Regions from separate parts of the Homo sapiens genome. Here region 1 is linked to region 2. Evidence: fine-mapped expression QTL. A gene starts in region 2. The other region holds a variant in brackets. All regions are shown on one strand. Distances are from middle to middle. Region 1 overlaps PTPRO (protein tyrosine phosphatase receptor type O). Region 2 holds the start of PTPRO (protein tyrosine phosphatase receptor type O).

Region 1 (9,805 bases), 280 kb after region 2:
TTTATGAAGTTATGGCAATGAACTGCAGCATGCTGGGACAATTATTTGACTACTTTTTTTTGTAATATTGTCAAATGTCTCTATGGATTCTGACAGAGATTTCTTTTTGTTTTGTTATTCTTTTGGTTGTCAGTTTCATTTTAACGAGTGTAACTAGTAACATTTTATTCTTTGGATTTTGTATAATTACAGTACATGATTGTGTATTGTGACATGAATGCTGTCAAAATGACATTGATGGCATTGTGAAGCCTGTTACTTTGTGTCACTTCCTGATAAATAAGAGGTGATGACATGGATATACAACAGAAAACACTTTGAGTTGAAAGTAAACACAAGCTGGCTGCTTCCCTGTGGCAACTGTGGCTATTGTGAGCCTCCGTGTGTGTGCTTCCAGGAGGCTTTGCTCCTCTTCATGCACCCGACACTGCCCCTTCCCTGGCTTCCCTCCATCCCTGATCATCTTCATGAAGCCACAGATATAAGATCAGCTTAATATTTTATCAGTGACCTTAGTGTTGGTGAAGGATGCCAAATGAACAGCTCTGCACCCCACCGTCTCTTGTCACTGAAAAGGCTTGGCCATGGCAGACCTTGGCAGAGTTTCTTGCAAGATCTGGCCAGTGAGTCTCAGTTTCACCTTGCAGGGTGAATGGCAGAGGATGCCCATACCCTGCAGGTTAACAGCTTGGGCTCCTCAGGGGTTGTCAGTTCCTACTCACCTCCCTGCTACCACCTCCTCCTCTTCTTCTCACCCCCGACTCCTTTATTTCCCTTTTTGGACATTTTAATAATGTGTCGCACCATTCTCAGGAACAAACATGGTTAATGAAAGGTGGCAAAGGGATGTGTGACATTCTTAGATTTTCACACATGGGCAGTCAGGAGTGAAATGTGCAACCTTGGAAGAGCTGATACAATGTATGGTAAGCTGAAGTACGTTTCCAACACTGCTGCTCAGAGCATACAGAAGTTTTGCATCCTGGAACATTGCTTCCCATGAAACAAAGCACTTCATAAATATTTTATGTTTTTCTTGAGCACCCTTTCAAGGTAGGGATCAAATAGTGCCAGATCAATTTTCCCAAAAGGAAAGAGGAAGTATCCAGAGTTTAGACTGAAGGCTTAGAGTCAAAACTACAGGAAGGTCACACTGTTCTCTGGAACACTGTTGCTCTTCAGTTTGTAGAGTTTATGATGGAAAAGGCATCAGTCTGTCAAAAGACTTGTTTAATCCTGATAATGACTTTGGAATTATCTCTCCTGGGTCTCAGTTAATAAACTGAAGAATGACCTAATCATAACTCCATATCTTGCAACAGGTATAAGAAGTATCAGATACGATAATTGACCCAAAGGTGCTTTGTGTCTTGTTCTCTCATGTATGTTCCGTAAGGCTACTCTAACCAGTTCTGTTTCCACACCAGGACCCAACTTTAAGCATTCAGAAGGGAGGCTTCCAGAGCCTCTGTATTATTAACTAGGGTTTTTAAAATTCATTTGAGTAATGCTTTGTTCTAAAAGAACACAGGGGCCTTAGTGCATGTGTTCATAATAGCCTGTATGGCACACAAAAAGATCTAAAAACTTGAGCGTTACAAAACATTTCATTTTGAGTGCTATTTTTTTTTTCTTTTTTTTTTTGAGACAGATCCTCTCTCTGTTGCCCAGGCTGGGGTGTATTGATGCAATGGCGTGACCTTGGCTCACTGCAACCTCCACCTCCCAGGTTTAAGCGATTCTCCTGCCTCAGCCTCCTGAGTAGCTGGGATTACAGGTGCGTGCCACCACGCCCAGCGAATTTTTTGTATTTTTAGTAGAAACAGGGTTTCACCATGTTGGCCTGGCTGGTCTCAAACTCCTGACCTCAGGTGACCCCCCCACCTCAGCCTCCCAAAGTGCTGGAATTACAGGTGTGAGCCACCACACCAGGCCTTGAGGGCTATTGAGATCAAATTCCTTGGCTGCAAAAGATAATTTATGAAGTTAATTGAGAAACTACCATTAGGATCTAATTAATAAATGTAATAGTTGACAGCAGTATATCCATTACTTCATATGATGATTTCGTTTAACTTGAAAAAAGTGATGGATGACAGCATTTTTTGGAAAAGCATTTTAATTCGGGGTCTACAATTTCCCACTGTAAAGACAACATTGCCTCCAAAATGTAAAACTAGAAAAGTTACTACTTTTTTTTAATGTCAGATTTTATAATGTCTCTCCTTTCCTAAAAGCTGTTCCTACTCCCAAAAAGGTGACACAGCTCTCAAATGAGGCTGTGGTGTCAACAGGCAAAGCAGGATCAGATGCTTTGGATTTGAATTTTCTGCAGGCTACTTGATAGCTGCTTGCTAGAGGATTGGCCCTTAGCCAAGGAGTTAAAGTTACTGAGTCCAACCTCTAAGAGCCAAAATTCTCCCTGCTTTCTAGCAAGGAGGCCTTCCTTTACACCTCAGGAAATGTCTGATGTAATGTGCTTCAAATAGCTGGCTCGCTTCCTAGCTCACAGATCTCTAGTCTGGTACTTGGCACAGCGATGAAGTCTGAGAGTCATGCCCATCGCTGATTATAACATTCACTTTGGCCAAAGGGGTTATAAAGCAACAAAATATAACATGCAAAACCTGCAGACTTCCACCCCTGACTTTTAATAGCCTCATTTGGAACCATTTGAAGGAAATTTCAGCTGTGACATCTCTGACCCCTGGCCTTCCAGAACAGTAAGATTTTTTGCTTTTAGTTTTATCTGGTGATTATCACAAGGCCTTTTCCTGGTGGGTCACTGGATTAAAGATGAAGTATAAGGTTTAACTCTGGGAGTTGCATTACAGGAGGGTCATGAACAGACTGAAGGCTGTCCAGACATTGTCACTAGAACCACCGGAAATGTGGAGAAATAACAGGTTATGATAACAAAACCTGGGAAAACTGGGGCTATTAAATCTGGAGTAAAGGAAGTCATTTATTGAATCACTCAGTCAACAAATGTGTGTTTATCTAATCATATTGTAGGAATCACTCAATCAATCCATCTAAGGTTTCTTGACCACTTGCAATATGCTAGGCCCTATGGTAAGCACAAATATGAAGGCTTTTAAAAATAGGCTATATAATCAGTTTTAATACTGTTGTTGGAATGTTCAAGAAAGCCTTAGCCAAGTCTTTTTCAACATTTTTATTTATATCTTCCAAAACTTCGTCAACATATCTTCTGGACATACTCACCAGCCATCATATTTAATGATGTTCAATATTTTCCTCAATGGCTTATATAACAGAAACAACAAATGTTCATTGTTTTTTTACTCATAAACCACTAGAAAGCCTGACATGATCGCTCTTGCTTGATGAGAGTCACCAAACTAGTCCTGCCCTCCTGCTCATAACAAGAGTCTCCTCCACCGTGTTCCTGGTGGATGGCTAATTCTTTTCTACAGAACACTTTTAGAGGGAGGAATTGCTTCTAAGGTAGCAAAGCATTTTTTCTTTTGTTTACACATCCAAGGACCTTACTAATATTAAGAATGTATGAGTCTGTGCCCCTCATGGGCATAGGCTTGAAGCCCAAATCTACTTCCCCATCTTGGAAAAAAAAAAAAAAGATCAGGTTCTGTGGCTGCTTTGAATACCGGACTGGCTTCTCACTTGGCAGCAAAGGAGATGGCACCTGACTCAGGGAGCAATGGGGGTTTCTTTCTAATGTGCTAATCCCTTTATGTTCATATCCTCAACTTCAAAACATCATTAGGAAGTGAGAATACTCATTTCCCAGGTGACGAAGTTGAGAGACAATAAGGTGAAGAGGCAGCGTAGTTAAATTACAACTACAGGGTTAGAAAGTGGCAGAAGCAGGATTCCCGGCCAGCTCTGCCCAGCCCTAAACCTTTTCCCCCACAACTTCATGCTGTTTCTCGTTCATACTTAGCATGGATAAAGTGCAGTAGGATGGAATTAATAGATTCATCTCCAGGTAATGTGTTTAATATAGAGGGCAGACATTCAATTTGAGAAATGGTAAATCTCTAACCTTCTAA[G/T]AAAATCATTTATTTATTGAACCTTTCATGCCAGGCACCGTAGAAGGGGCTATGGCTATGAAGATGGATGCAACAAGATTCTTGCTTCTAGTTTACATTCTAATAGGGGAAATCAGAAGTAAAAATAAGGGCAACAAAGTGTAACAGACACCGTGATAGAAACACAAAAAGTATCCAATATAGGTCCAAGGGAAGGATAGGTGATCTTTTTTTTCTAGAAGGGTCAGGAAACACTATACTACTATATTAAAGTACTAATAACTATAGGGCCACATTAAGCAATACTAAAGAGGAACATTCATTGCTCATTCAGCAAACATGAAACACCCAGTATGCATCAGTCACTGGGGCCCATATGGATGACTAATCCTCCCACCCTGCCTTCTGAACCTATTCTTCTTGGCACCTTCCAAGGGGACCATTTCTCTTAAGATGTCCACAAACAGCTCCAGCTCATGTATCACTCAGCAGAATCTAGTGGATTTACTCTTACTGCAAACCTAACAGAGCATACTGGGACTACTTTTCAAGACCCTTTGCAGAGTTCTGGGCAATGGAATGTGTGCTTCCTGGCCTCTGGACCATGAAAATTACCCAGGAGCAACCTTCCATTCCACCCTCCCCCACCCCTCTTCTTTCTTGTCTCTCTCTCTCTGTGTGTGTGTGACTGTGAATGTGTGTATGTCTCTTTCTCTCTCTCCCTCTCCTCTACCCCAACACAGATGGTGGTGCCACAGATAGGAGGACTCTGGGTCCCTGAATCACCACTTGGGGCAGGGATATCTGGTAGCATTGGCCCATTATGTGATCAAGAAATAGATTTCTATTGCATTGTCACTGAAACTTGGTCATTGTCAGTTACAGCAATCAACCTGCCCTTAACTAATATGGCAGCACAAGGATAACCTTTACAACAATGTTCCATCTAAGTTACAATAGGAAGTTTTCAGAGCAATGGTGTGTGACTGCCCAGTAAAATTCCCAGAAGACAGTTAAAGATGAAGCAGTGCAGAGCAAAGTAAACCCACAATGCAAAACAAGGGTTCAGGAAAGGCCACAAAAGCAATAATGGTTCCTTTAATAAATAAACTTTTTAACAGAAATATATGAATTCTTCTTTATAAGTTGTTTTCCTCCAGGTTAGATCTCTCCTGATCTTTTGGTTGTCATTGCTTTTCACACCCCATCATAAGACCATGACTCAGGACACCCACTAGAACTTCTTACCCTTACACTAGGCCATTGCCTCTGAATCAGACTCCTGGATTCCTATTAACAATATACCCCAAAGTGGTTTCACATCAACAAAAGCTCACACATACAGGAGCCCATGAGGCTTGGTGTTTGGAGTGATGCTGGGCAACCCAATCCTTTACATTTTGTGCGTGTCCTGGTGCGTTCCAGGGCCATGGTCACAGTTCAAAGCCAGCTGACACGAAATATTTTTGTTCAGTTCTAAGAGCACCAAAAAGTTCAAAGGGCAGTTTAAACTAGAAAAAGTTAACTGTAACCACTACATCCTTTATAAATATAAAACAGGATGGTCTTAGAAAGGTTCCTTCATGTCCAAAACCAAATTAGATCATATTGCCCCTTAACCAATGAACTTGGGAAGTGACACAGGACAGGGTCCAGCAGGACAGCAGAGCAGAGGGGCTTAGAATAAGGGACTGTGGTTGAAGAGAGGCTTGAGCTAAGTCTCTGCTCCTGACTACATATAACTCAGTCATCTAATCTATGAAATGACATCCTGATGGTAGCTTTCACATAGGGAGTCTTAGTCAGGGCTGCTGTAACAAAGCACCATAAACTAGGTGGCTTTAAATATTTCTTACGGTTCTGGAGGCAGTAAGTCCAAGATCAAGATGCCAGCATGGTCGGTTCTGGTGAGAGCCCTCTTCTGGGTAGCAGACAGCTGCCTTCTTGTATGCTTACATGGCAGAAACAAGGCAAGAGAGCTCTCTGGGGTTCCTTTTATCTGGGCACTGATCCTATTCATGAAGGTTCCACCTTTATGATATAATTACTTCCCAAAGGCCCCACCTTCTAATATCATTACATTAGGGATTAGGATTTCAACATATGAATTTTGGGGGCAAATTCAGTCCATTGCATAGGGCATCAGAAGATAACATGTGTAAGGATCTGAAAACAATACCAGGAATAGTTTAGTACATTACATACCACCCTGTTACAAGCCAATCTCCCACAGTCTCTAAGGGCCATCCTGATAGTCTTCAATAGACTTGGTAAGAGCATCTGAAGCTGGTATCTGACCTAGACTGACTGGGTTTTTCCAGGGTGACACCTGAACCCCCTCCCCTGGCAGCTACCCTCACAGTCACAGACCTTGGAATATAAAAGAGGTATAGTCTGTGACCCAATGTGGATGACCTTGTGTCATAGGCATTTGATGCAAAAGCAGAAGCTAGTGTTCCAGATAAGAGTCCTGGATTTCCCAGGCCTGGATTTCCAATTCTTTACTAGCAAATGTATTACCAATGTGTGTGTTTTATGTCCAGTGTATGTAATCTATGCTAGCGGGTTTCCCAGAAAAGCAATGTCAGCACCTAATTTACATTCCATGAAGATGTCTGCAGCTGTACAGATAATCTGCACAAATTCCTTGCACTAAAACTATATCTAGAGAGCTGACTGCTTCTAAGACAAGACAGCCAATTTGTACAAACCTTAATATGTACATACGCCTGGGTCAAGTTAAGAAGAGATGCTTGGCGTGAACAGACACCGCTTGTGAGCACCACTTAATCCCTCTGTGAACTGGTTTCCTTGTTTGTTAATGGCAATAATAAGAGCCTCCTCCACAGGGCTGCACTGAGGATTAAATGTAAAGCCCTTGGCATGGTGCCTGGTGGTCTGAGGGTACAGAATGGCATAATTGAGAAAGTATAGTCTTCAGAGTCACAGAACTCTGTGCTCTTATGCTGACTAGCAGTGTGGCCTTGAGAAGTCACCTACTATTTCTCAGCCTAAGTGTTCCCACAATAAAAAAATAATATCTACGTTTTCAAGTTGTGGTAAAACTTATAACTGGTTGTGTAAAGCACCGGCCAAAAACCTGGCAGAGTCAGCATAGCATAAATGCAGTATGATTCTTCAAATTTCCAAATCTCTCCCTCTCTTAGTGCATTTAGGCCACCAAACCCACCTACTCCTTTCAGTACCAAGACATCTACAGAGTGAGTGTGCCCCTTTGATTTCTCAGTCCCACATGGGCGCCCTTAGCATGAGCATGCCCCCTACACAAGGTCAGCTCCCAGAGCAGCAGTAACAACCCAACCCATGAAGTGCTGCCACACTTGGAGTCAGCAGCTCCCGTAAGAGGCAGAGGTTTGGCCAGGCGCAGTGGCTCACTCCTGTAATCCCAGCACTTTGGGAGGCCAAGGCCAGCAGATTACCTGAGGTCAGGAGTTCAACACCAGACTAGCCTGGCCAGTATGGTGAAAATGCGTCTCTACTAAAAATATATATAAAAAAATTAGCTGGGCGTGGTGGTGCATGCCTGCAGTCCCAACTACTCGGGAGGGTGAGGCAGGAGAATCGGTTGAACCCAGGAGGCAGAGGTTGAAGTGAGCCGAGATCACGCCACTGCACTCCAGCCTGGGCGACAGAGCAAAACTCCGTCAAAAAAAAAAAAAGAGGCAGAAGTTTTGTTTGCACATACATGTCACATATTGGGGTGGAAAACTCAGTTGGAAAAAATAATAAAAGAATTTGGAAGCATCCAGGCAATTTCAGATATCTGTTTTAATTTGCGTTCTGTAAATCCACTGCGCTGTCACCAAGGTATAACAATAGTCATTTTCTCATTCTTTTTTTTTCCATTTGCTGCAATGCAAATGAAACAAATTACCCAGACTTCCAAATTCCATCCTATAATAAGATTGGTTTTGGAGATGAGGCAATAGACTAACTTCCCTGTGCTGTTTTCCTAATAAAAAGTGCGCCCTTACTTATATACTGCAAGATACGAGGTTGCTACAGGCTATTAACACCATGACCTGCTTACCTTGCAAAGAGCTGTATTTTGTGTGTGTGTATGAGACAGAGTCTCGCTCTGTCGCCCAGGCTGGAGTGCAGTGGTGTGATCTCAGAAGAGCTATATTTTATGAGCTAGCAACAGCTCATGGCACCTGTCTTAGCCTCTTTTAGCCTATGTTCCAATAGCTCTGCTGCTAGGTTCCTTCACTAGTGAAAGACAAATCAATCCTTTTCCCACATACCTCCTAAGAGCTGGAGAGGACACTGTCGTTGTGTTTACTGAATAAACCACACCACAGATTAACTTGAAGCAAATGTATATCTACTCCTAGTTTGGGCCTGGCTATTACGAGCAGGGTTGAGACTAAGATCCAGTAATTTTTGCCCTGATTTCTTGGTATTTTATGTAATGTCGATTCCAAAGCATAAATGTGGACCTATGAGAGAACGTCCAAAGCTAATTTTTCTATCTAAACAAAATAGCGCTTTGAGGAGGTGGTCAGTCATCTGAAATTCCCCACAGATGCAAATGACCTTTGCAACTGAGAATTATATCTCCTGGTTCAACTGCTGCCTGGAACAACCACTGTCCAGTCTACCTTCATGTCCACCCGCAAGGGCCTTCATGGGACCTGGAGTTCCAAGGTCCAGAGATTTCCAAATAAAGCTCCCGGACTCCTCTCTGCATCTTCAGTGCTGATTTTACCTGTGTTATATGGAGGCATACTATATAAAATTTCATTTTTTAAAAAAGTGCTTTTTCTGCTTAAATTGTTGTATACACTGACCTATATAATACATGAGAGAAAAAAAGTTTGCATGATATATAGAAGTCCAAGAAATTGAGTCCAAATTCAGTTGTCCACTTTGTAATCTTTTACAAGCTACCTAACTTATCTGGGTTTCAATTTCCTCTCTTATAAAGTGGGATATATGTGAAAGTGCTCAGCACACATGAATTCAGTTCCTGTTTCCCTTTCCTTAGAATAGATGGGAGGGCAGAAGGCCTTGTCATATGGTACCAGTTCAGAGTAAGAAACAATGAAACAGGACAAACTGTGAAAGATCTAGAGATTTCAATTTCTGGCCAGTTTGTGTGTGCGTGTGCGTGTGCGTGTGTGTGTGTGTGTGTATGCATGTGTGCTTTATTCCATTTTTCCATGGGCTGAAAGGGCCTTCATTTCATTTTTGGAGGAAACAGGAATGATTGAACATGGGGAAATTATATTCTACTCCATATGCAGAGCTTTCCCACCCGAGGCAGCCCAGAAATGGAGCAGGAATTGGGCCAACTGCCTGGGACTACAGTCAGGAAGGAAAGAGCCGTGAGAGCCGCCTGGACCAGGACCATCTGGGCCCCTCAGCAGTCCTGGCTCATCGCACACCTCCTTCCAGCACCAAGCTCAAGGTGATGTGCCCAAAGCTCTTTCGAAGGCATTTCAACTGTTAAGATAACCAGTTCATACAGAAATCCACATCCGGGACCTTAGTTCTCTCAGAGCACGTAATAGCCACATCTTCCTCCAATTCACCTTCACGTTTAATTGTGTAGTTCTTAGTAATGCTATCTTATCAGAATTATACTAACTTTTCATTTTTTAACCTTTCTTTCACAAACGTGATGAGATAAATCTGAACATTTGGGTATTAGAAGATAGTTCTGCCAAGTGCGCCCCCCACTCAAAATAAAAACAAAAACAAAAAACAACTGAGCATTTCCCGAAAAACTGCTCTCAGAACACTGGCTTCTTTTCCTGTCCTCAACT
Region 2 (9,805 bases):
CACCTTTAATTTGAGGGGAAGTAAAGAAGGAAGGGAAGGAAGCATCAGCAGATACCATTTCCACTTAGCAAACACTATGTCTTGCTTTAGCTATAAATTACACTCAGGTTCTATTCTTGCTTTTCATGCCAAGCTAAAGTGAATCACTCAGTGCAGTGATGCTAATACTTTAAATTATAGTTAGCCAAAAAACCTAGTTATGAAGAAAAGCTAAATTAGTAAATGATAGCAATGTCTGGAACATTCAGAAAAAATATTTTAGAAGTTCATTAGTCAAGGCATTTCATATAAATAAAATATGAGATAAAATCATATAACTTAAGGCTAATGCCTTTTATTAAAGTTTTAGAGCAATTAAATGAAATGCTAGCAACAAACAGAATCCTAGTATATGACTGAATGAAGGTATAATATCTAAAAACACGACAATCTGCATTTCTAATGTAGGGCTGTTTATCCTATAGCCTGTAATTTGTGTCCAGTGATATATATCTGCATATCTGCTCACACTTTCTATGTATGTTTCCTTATTTCTTTAAGTATATAATTTTGTGTTGTAAGACATATCTTGTAATGCAATATTCTTATTTGATTTTCTTTAAGACATGTAAGAGTCAAGTACAAGTAAGATAGGTCTCTTAATAGGAATCTTTTGCGGCGGGAGAGGGGAATATAATGGGAAAAGACTCTCCAAGTAAAAGCAAAAATGACCTTCTTTAGCGTATTTCCACTGTTTTTCAAGTGCAGCAAGAGTAATAAGTCTTGGCAGTTGGAACATGCCATTCACCTGAGGGCTGTCAATCGTTCTCATTTTGAAAGACACAAAACTTATGAATTGTCAACACATCATTTAGGTGAGAAACCAGTGCTCATCAAGAGAAAAAATTAAAACAAATGCTCAAATAAATAGAAAATCAAAATGCTTCCTGGTCATTTTCTTCCAAGAGCTTAATACAGATAATCTACAGTTCATATGCTATAAAAATTGTAACATGTGAGATATGGACAACAAACTGAATGGCTATTACTTTTCCAATGGAATAGAGTCTAGAGAACAATTGCTTGAATTTTTCTTTCTATTCCATATAAAGTAAATTATTTGTCATTGAGCATCCCCCATAAATACAATTATCTAATACTGAAACTGCTGACAGCCTTGTAGGCTATTTCAGTAGTGGAAGCCAGGACTAAACACACTCAACTACATTAGAGGTTGTCCCTGGAGGACAGAATTGAGCTTCATTGGCAAGGGCACCGTAAGAGTTCCATTTGACTCCTCATTAAACCTCTCACAGGGATTCTAGCTGCTTCTCTGTGTCTGCGCTTGCTTTTCTATAGAAGAGATAGATGTGAACCACGTAGGCAAAGATACATTTCTACATATTTAGGAAAAGATCGCTTTTCTTGGTAAAAACTAAGCCTCCTATAGATTTTAAAAAGACCTTCCAGTTTCATGATCATTAACCACCTTTTTATAATTTTCAAAGGAAGTAGAGAGCTTTATTTCAATTTGTGAGAACTTATTTTTCAATGCTTGTTTTATGGCATGTCAGAGATATTATTATTTTTCTGTGTTTATTTTTTCTCCAGGAAAAGTAGCATTAGGGGAAAACAGTTGGTGATAATGATCTCAGCCTTCTTTACCTAACAATGTGGTTGTCATAATGAAATCTGGACCAATATGTAGAAGCAATTGGTGAAACATAAATTACTATATGCACTGTATGTTGCCCCTGGCTGTTTTGTTGATTTGGAGTCTTGAAAATAGCATAATAAGATTTATCATACTTTGGAAGTATTGTATTGAAAAACCAGTCAATAGCTCAAAGAAACACAAAACATGCTCTATGAATTGAAAACCCCACACTGTGGATGACACAGCATTCACATTCTTTATGAGAATCTCTTCTAGGACACTGTTATGGTTTAAGTGCAATAAAAACAAATGAAAGTATTTTATCCAGCAATAGCAATGTAAAATACTTTTCTCTAGAGAGGAAATTTTCTGTGATTATAAAATAATACTTTCAGTCTTCAGCCCATCTAACCACAATGTTACTAATAAAATAACAACAATGCCAATTACTAATGCTTTACTACTTACTGTTTACTGTTATTGTTCCTCCAAAGTGGTCCACATAATATATATATATATATATATATATATACATATATATATATATGCACAAAGACAGAAAGAGCTGAACAAATTGTGATGTATGACTAAGAGAAAAACAGAAAGACGCAGCAGAATATGATTATTTAAAAGGGAGCCTCATTGTGAAAGTTCTTTTAGCATTTACAAGATTAATTTATGATCAGAACTGCTTTAAACGCCCTACGCACATCAGGCAAGGCTATATCCATGTATACACACAGACATATGCATACACACAAATGAATATCATCATACAGACCCATAATTCACAGACACATTTTAAAATTAAATGCTACTCCAAAGAGAAATTGTTGGCATCCTGTGAGTGTGATTGTTGCCCTTGGCCTATATATATCTTATGTTCTAGAGATTAGATCACTTTACAGCCACTTCTGAGGGCGAGTGGGAATAAAATGCTGCTTCAGGAGCGTCAAAATAAAAAGAAAACATATTAAACCAAAGTTCCTATAAGTGCAATCCCAAGGATTAAATGTTCAGATAGCCCGTAAGTCTAACCCAGAGGGAGGGAGGAGCAGTTAACATTTTCTCAAAAGAAAGAAAATGTCCAAACCAATGATGAGTGGACATGAGGGACCTGAAGAGAGCATGTGATGGGAATGTGAAAACAAAAGAAGCTTCTAAAAGAAGACACCAAGGATAATATTCTCACAAAAATTCAGACCATCATTCTATATTTTCATGCATATGAATTTTGGTACATATTTCATGCATATGAAATTTGGTACATATATACATATATGTACCATGCATATACATATGCGTACATATACATATACGTATGCATACACATATGTATCTATGTACACACATACACATATGTGTACACACATATGTACATGCACACACATATGTGTACACATATGTACATGCACACACATGTGTGTACACATATGTACATGTACACATATGTGTACATGTACACATGTGTATATATACATATTCACACTTATGTAAACATATTCAATCTAAAGCTTCCTTAAGACACATACAAACAACAACCAAATGATTAGTGTTTGGCCATTGCTCATGCAGCAAAAGCTGAGTAAACACAGCTCTGGATCCTTTTCTCAGGCCACCACTCCCTAGCTGTGTGACTGACAAAGTCTATGCCTGAACACCTACATTCATGACCAGGGTGGCCTTTCCTGTCTCCTGTTGCCCAAGCATGTCTCAGGTATAAATAAGTTCCAATACTGACAGGGCACAGCAAGGGTAATTTACATGACAATAAGAAATGATTTCTATCTGAACAGTGCATACCAGAGTTGATTTCGACAGACTTATCTTTAAAAAAATACACATAACAAAAAAGGAGACAAGTAGTAGATTGGGGACCCACAGCTTGAAAGTCGTTGCTTGTGATTCTAAAACATCCCAGTAAAATTATTCACAGATAATTGTTTAAAAATATAACTGTACATACCGTTGACACTTGGACAACACAGAGAATCACGTAGTTGAAAATCCACATATAACTTTGAACTCATCAAAACCTTAACTACTAATAGCCTACTCTTGACCGGAAACCTTACTGATAACATAATAAACAGTTGATTAACACACATTTTGTGTTGTATGTATTGTATACTGTATTCTTACAATAAAGTACGCTAGAGAACAGAAAATATTATTAAGAAAACCATAAAGAGGAGAAAATACATTTATATTCATTGAGTGGAAGTGAATTATCATAAAAGTCTTTAACGTCATCCTTTTCAGGCTGAGCAGGCAGAGGAGGAGGAAGAGGGTTTGGTCTTGCTGTCTCAAGGCTGGCAAAGGTGGAAGAAAATCTGCATATAACTGGACCCAACAGTTCAAACCCGTGTTGTTCAAGGGTCATACATGTAAAATACTGTGATTTTTCCCCCTTCTATATTCAGCTTCAGGTGACCCGACACACTTTGGTATCAAAAGAGAATCTGAAATGTACAAGAACTGCGGATTTCAAATGGAAAAGGTGCATAATTGTGCTATTTGTTCCTGGGTGAGTGTGGGACGGAGACGGTGAGAGTGTTGAAATGGGATGGAGATAATGGAAGCAGTGGGGAAGGAGAGAAAATACCCTTCCTATCACACACACTCACACACTCACACTACACACTATTTCTACAGTCACAACTACCCAACTGTTATTGATCCTTTATAACTGCAATTGAGTACAGATGTAGGAAGATTGAGAGGGAACTGGGATCTGGCGCCTGGATTGCTCAAGAGAGGTCAGGGAAACCCCTCAGAACTCCTGAGACCCAGAGATTGAGGGAGGGGTTGAGGCGGAGTCTGCAATGGGGGCTGTCCAGCAGTAGCAAGCAGCGGGCCGATCCTGGTGGAGGGTTGGGAGGCTGCTGTCATTTTATGGGTCGGCAGCCAGAGTGAGAGTGTCCCTGCTGCCAGAGGACTACGGCGGGCTGGGCGCGGGGTCCCCGCCTCTCGCTCACCACACAGACCCCGCGCCTCCTCTGGCAGCCGCGGTGGTGGCGGCGGCAGAGCCTCGCCCACTCCAATCCCCACCCTCTCCATCCTTAGTCATTAAAGAACAGCAGCGCCTGGCACGTTCTTGGAGGACCCCGGGCGCAGAGGAGGAAAGGGAGCAGGCGCAGGGGGACTGGAAAGGCAGCATGCGCTCGCCAGGAGCAACCTCGGCGCCCAGGGTCTGAGGCTGCAGCCCCAGTTCGCCATTGTGAGCCGCCGCCGGGGGAGTCCGCTAGCGCAGCCGTGCCCCCGAGTCCCCGTCCGCGCAGCGATGGGGCACCTGCCCACGGGGATACACGGCGCCCGCCGCCTCCTGCCTCTGCTCTGGCTCTTTGTGCTGTTCAAGGTAGGGGAGCTCCTCCACCCCTTTTTCCCAGCGGTCCGGGCGGCAGCCGCGCTCCGGCGCCCTCGCTCTGCCGTTGGGAGCGGCGCGCCCCAGGGCACGATGGCCCAGCCGCGGGAAGCGCCTGCCGTGCAGCCTGGGCGCACGCTTTGTTGTCCTCGCGTGTGCGTGTTCCTGGTGGTCTTGAGAGGTAGGGGGCGGGGGGAAGAATAAGGGAAGTTTGCTCCCTCCGGCTTTCGCCCTTTGTGCTCTTTTATCGCTGCTGAAATCCACATCAAAGGTGGGCTTGTTGGATCGTGCTTTCTCAGGCAAAATGAGGTCACTTTCTTTTCTGGTTTCCACTGCACCCCAACGCTGCTTAACCTTTCCGCCCTCCCTCGCACAGAATGCTTTGTCTTAATTTTCCTTACTGCTGGAATTATACACTGGAGAGTGGAGGGGGACTGAGCTCCCTGGACACAAATGGACTGCCAGGGCTACGTTAGGGCAGAATTTTCTTTGAATAAGGAGTGTCAGGTAGAGAGCTTGGTAAGGATTCCTCTCCCCAACTCCTATCAACATCTTTACAATTCCTTTTAAAAAGTCTCCAGACTTTCTCCACTATATTTACAGATGATATTACCCCTAGATTTAATGGTGGAAAAATATATAATAATAAACTTTTTCGTATCTTCTTTGGAATGTGCTACCCTGAGGTTTTACTTTGAGAAAAATGAAAAGCAAAGGAGTTGCTTTTGAAAAATCAGTTTGACAACTATACTGTACATAAATTTTTTTGAAGAAATGTCAGCTAGATGTTTTCTTGGACGGCGATGTGAAGTTCTGAAGTGATTGTCTATCACTCATGTCTTCAGTGGATCTACTTTAGTTCTGTTGTTAGTCTTTTCCTCTCTCCGCAAAGCAAACTCAAGAATGTCGACAGGTGACTTGGAGCTATCCTTTCAGGACCACAGTGATACCTTCCCTAGAAATGGATGCCAGGTTAATGGATCCAAAGGTTTTCTTATTATAGAGTCACTTCTTGCTTATATGCACCATTAATTATGAATGCCTAAAAAGAATATAATGGAACAGGACCAATGGATTAAGAACAGCATTACTTTTAAATACTCCATATTTTCATTTATCTTAATGAAAAATATAAAAAAAATTCAGGGAGAAACAGCAACAGAATGCCTAAGTAAGACCTTAAAATATATTTAATATGTTTTAACATTTTTTCTTAAATTATCAATAATCATTAATTTTAAAGTATGGTAAATAATAAGCTCAGTTATATGTTTTTACTGTAGGAGGTTGTTCTTTCATACACATCATAAATGCATTAGACTTATTAGGTTGTCTATTAGTCGTTTTCTAACTATTTATCAAACTGTCACAACTATTTTACCTATGCAATAATTGTCATGAACCAAAAATTAGAAACCAAGTCACTATGCATTTTACGAGCAACAGCTAAGAGTTATATGTATGACATCTGATCCAAACCTAACGTTTAGCACAACTGCAGGTTTTTGCGTGAGTTCTTCATAATGAGATAATTCCAGAAATAAGAGAATGACTTGGTTGGGAGTGGGGGTAAGGTTTTGCAATTAAAATAAAATAAATGTGGCCATTGTTTGACTTAAAACTCGATATTGGAATGAGAAAATGCAGTTAGTGATGGTGTAATGAAAATGTTAGTGATTGTCATAGAGGTCCAGCCTGCTTCACATAATAGGTATATTCCTGAACATTGCAGGTAAATGTAAATTATGGCAAACTGCTTCCATAGTAAATACATTGGCAAAGTTTGCCATTTAAATAATAATTATTGTAGTGGGACACATAATTTTGTAAGAAAAATCATTTTCCTTTATTTTATGTGAATGTAATATTTTTGTCACCTGAATATAAACTATATCAGAGGAAAGAAGAAAAAACTGTATATATTAAATACCTTCTATGTGCTGGTTTTTTAGGCATTTTACATACGTTATTTCATTTAATCCTATTTTGCTGCAGTTGACAAGAGTTGTTCAAAAAAAATGGTAAATTGGGCACACAGTGTAATATCTTACATTTAGAGGATAGTATATTACATGGTGCGTTGGGCACATGGTATAATCTCTTTATAATTTGGAGATATTTTTGAATTAAAGGTCCTGATTAAGTGCCAGTAAAACAGATCTACTCAAGCAGGTTGTGACTGGAGGATGAGAAAAAATTCATTATTAAATACCAAACTGCTAACTGTATCTCAATAATAAAATCCAAAATGTTCCACGTGTGCCGAGTCAGAAATGAAACATTCTCTCAACTCTCCCTTGCCAAAATAATTTCCATAGTTTTCACTATAGTTAATACATTTTTCACTACTCCATATGTGTATCCTTTATATAAGAGTGAAAATTCTGAAGGAAAATAAGACAGAGAAATTCAAGTATGAGGCTTAATTTACAGCTTTACATTTTCCACAACTCAAAAATAAGCAGCTGGATATCAGTGGTGGAAAAGTAGGAAAGTTTGAATGTGTATGAATGGCTATAATCAGTTCCATTGAGGGAGACTAAATGTGACTGGCCAAGAAGGTCTTTGTGCCATCGTTCCTTATCCATGGAGCAGTGATGAGCACATATAATCGGGCATCTCAGACTGTCTAAATCATTCACTGCACATTATGAAGCTAATATCTGCATAATTTATCTTGCCTAAACACAATGTTGGTTATGAAAATTTTTATTTTTATATCAATATTGATGGTGTATATAAAATAGAAGAAAAAATGGAACTCTGTTATTATATTGAAGGCTACTAATTTCAAAGTCTTCTATGGATGAATGCAAGTGAGGTATTTATCTGGCGAGCCTCGCTGTTGTGTGTCTTCCCATAATTCCCAGTGAAAGAAATGTAACTTCCTACACTTGTCCTATCTTTACTAAAGCCCTCCTAGAAAATGTCTTCCTGTATCAGTTTACTCAGTATAAGTACTTTGTCTACTAAGGTGCAAATCGTGGAATATGACATCATAGGAATTTGAAGTTGGCCTTCCCTGAAATGTTGCTTTTTAGTAGTCAGCTGGAATATATTCCTAAACTCAAGTGCTTGGCGTGTGTCCTTCTTTTTTAACCCCTTCTCTCTATTTCTTTCTATTTCTGCTTTTACCAGAGATATCATCAAAGAATATCAAATTTAAAAAGGGTCTTAATATTGTACTTTCTGAAACAGGTTTATATTTAATTCTATAATACATGAGTGTTATGATACTGGCCATTCTACTCTTATCCAGGGGAAATATCTGTTTTCCACGGTCTGTCTGCCTTTCCTTTCCTATGTCTCCCCTCGCAACCCCATACACACACACAAAGAAGTTTCACTTTTCGTGGTTGAGGTTTCATCCATAAATTGCACAGTGTTGGCAGGTGAACCATAATCCTTTCATTTTGCTGGAGCAGCTTAGATCCTTTCCATCACAATGAAGTTTGCTGCCCTTAACTCCCATGTCATCTGACTCCTTTAATAAATCATATTGCCAACCTTTTGGAGAAACCTTTTTACATGTGACATCCCCAGTAGGTTGGCAAAGGCTCCCTGGGCCATGCTTCTACAGATGATCGAGTAATAATCCTTCCCACTGTGAACATATGTTTCCTTTTGTTCTTTGTTTTGTGAGAGACTATCGTTGTGTGAAGGAATGAAAAATTCACATTACACCTCTGCCTCATTTTGGCCCAAAAGAAAATGCACATTTATGTGGATAACTGATTAAAAACAATATGAGTTGTACTTTATTTTAAAATGTAACACTATTTCTACTATCTAAATATCCAACTTAAAGGTATTTAAACGTATAAGCAGATTTACTCCTGAACCTTATAAATATAATTCTAACTTGAGGGGTTGTAAAAGAATGTTTGATGTCAGATACAGTTGATGCACTTAAGTAAAACATTGTAATTGGTAGCAGTGTGGCACAATAGAAGGCTTAACAACAATGACCACAAGTTTTCATTTTCCCCTAATTTAATGCCTCTCCGTACACAGTTTCAGTGATGTTGCATTTTCAGAAACATATCCCAGTGCAGTGATGAGCTTTACTGTAAAGCACTTAATGTTTTCATTTAATTACTCCAAATATGTTGTAAATATTTTTGAAATAAAGGAATGTCTACTGTAATATTTCTATCTTTCATGGTGCTAGTATGTGGTGTTAGGAATTTAATAGAAGGTTAATAAACAGATTTAAATTTTCTGCATTATATAAAAGCTCTGACTGAGAATTATGAAATATTGTAATATTGACTTGTGAACACATCTTTAAGGAAAATATAGGAAAATTATCATTATGGGAGTTAAATAATCATAACTACAATGCACTCATTACATTCAAATAGTAAAAATTTTACCAATCACTTATATTAGAATCTTATTAAAACCATAAATTAAAATATCAGTTATTTTTCCCAGAAATGTAATATTCTCAGTTGCTCATTTATTCATTAATGTTACCTCACCTCTGTTTAATGTTATTAATTAAAAAGTAGCAAATGACATACTAGGGGAAATTGATTTTTTTAACCTGTATGGGTGACCTACAATTTCAGCTAGTACCCAGATATACAGGTAATATTTTTGCCTCCTCTTCCACATCACCACTCCGCTATGACCACAACCAACCAGAACTGACCAAGATTTCTGTGTTCCTAGTAGAAATCCTCCTAATGTTTTGTCAGACATCACCCTTAAGAGATGAAGTATTTTCTACACCCTGGTCTTGGTTATCCCTATGGTAGTGTTTAATCCAAGGTCGTATAACCCAATTTCTTACAGAACTC

The links. PIP is the estimated chance that this variant, and not a neighbour inherited with it, causes the effect.
Region 1: its variant is the best candidate, but not a certain one, in a credible set for the expression of PTPRO in blood mononuclear cells (TOPMed, PIP 0.71).

Annotation. Positions count from the first base shown.
Region 1 is chr12:15,597,034-15,606,838 of GRCh38, forward strand. It overlaps PTPRO (protein tyrosine phosphatase receptor type O), which reads left to right. Exons shown (of 27, transcript NM_030667.3): 27 at 1-1,298. Among named protein-coding and RNA genes, the nearest start is that of EPS8, 190 kb to the right of the region's middle. The variant G/T (reference allele first, on the strand shown) is at 4,038.
Region 2 is chr12:15,317,808-15,327,612 of GRCh38, forward strand. PTPRO (protein tyrosine phosphatase receptor type O) reads left to right here and starts at 4,701. Exons shown (of 27, transcript NM_030667.3): 1 at 4,701-4,994. The coding sequence starts at 4,920. All of the region lies in intron 2 of LOC105369673 (a long non-coding RNA gene), which reads right to left.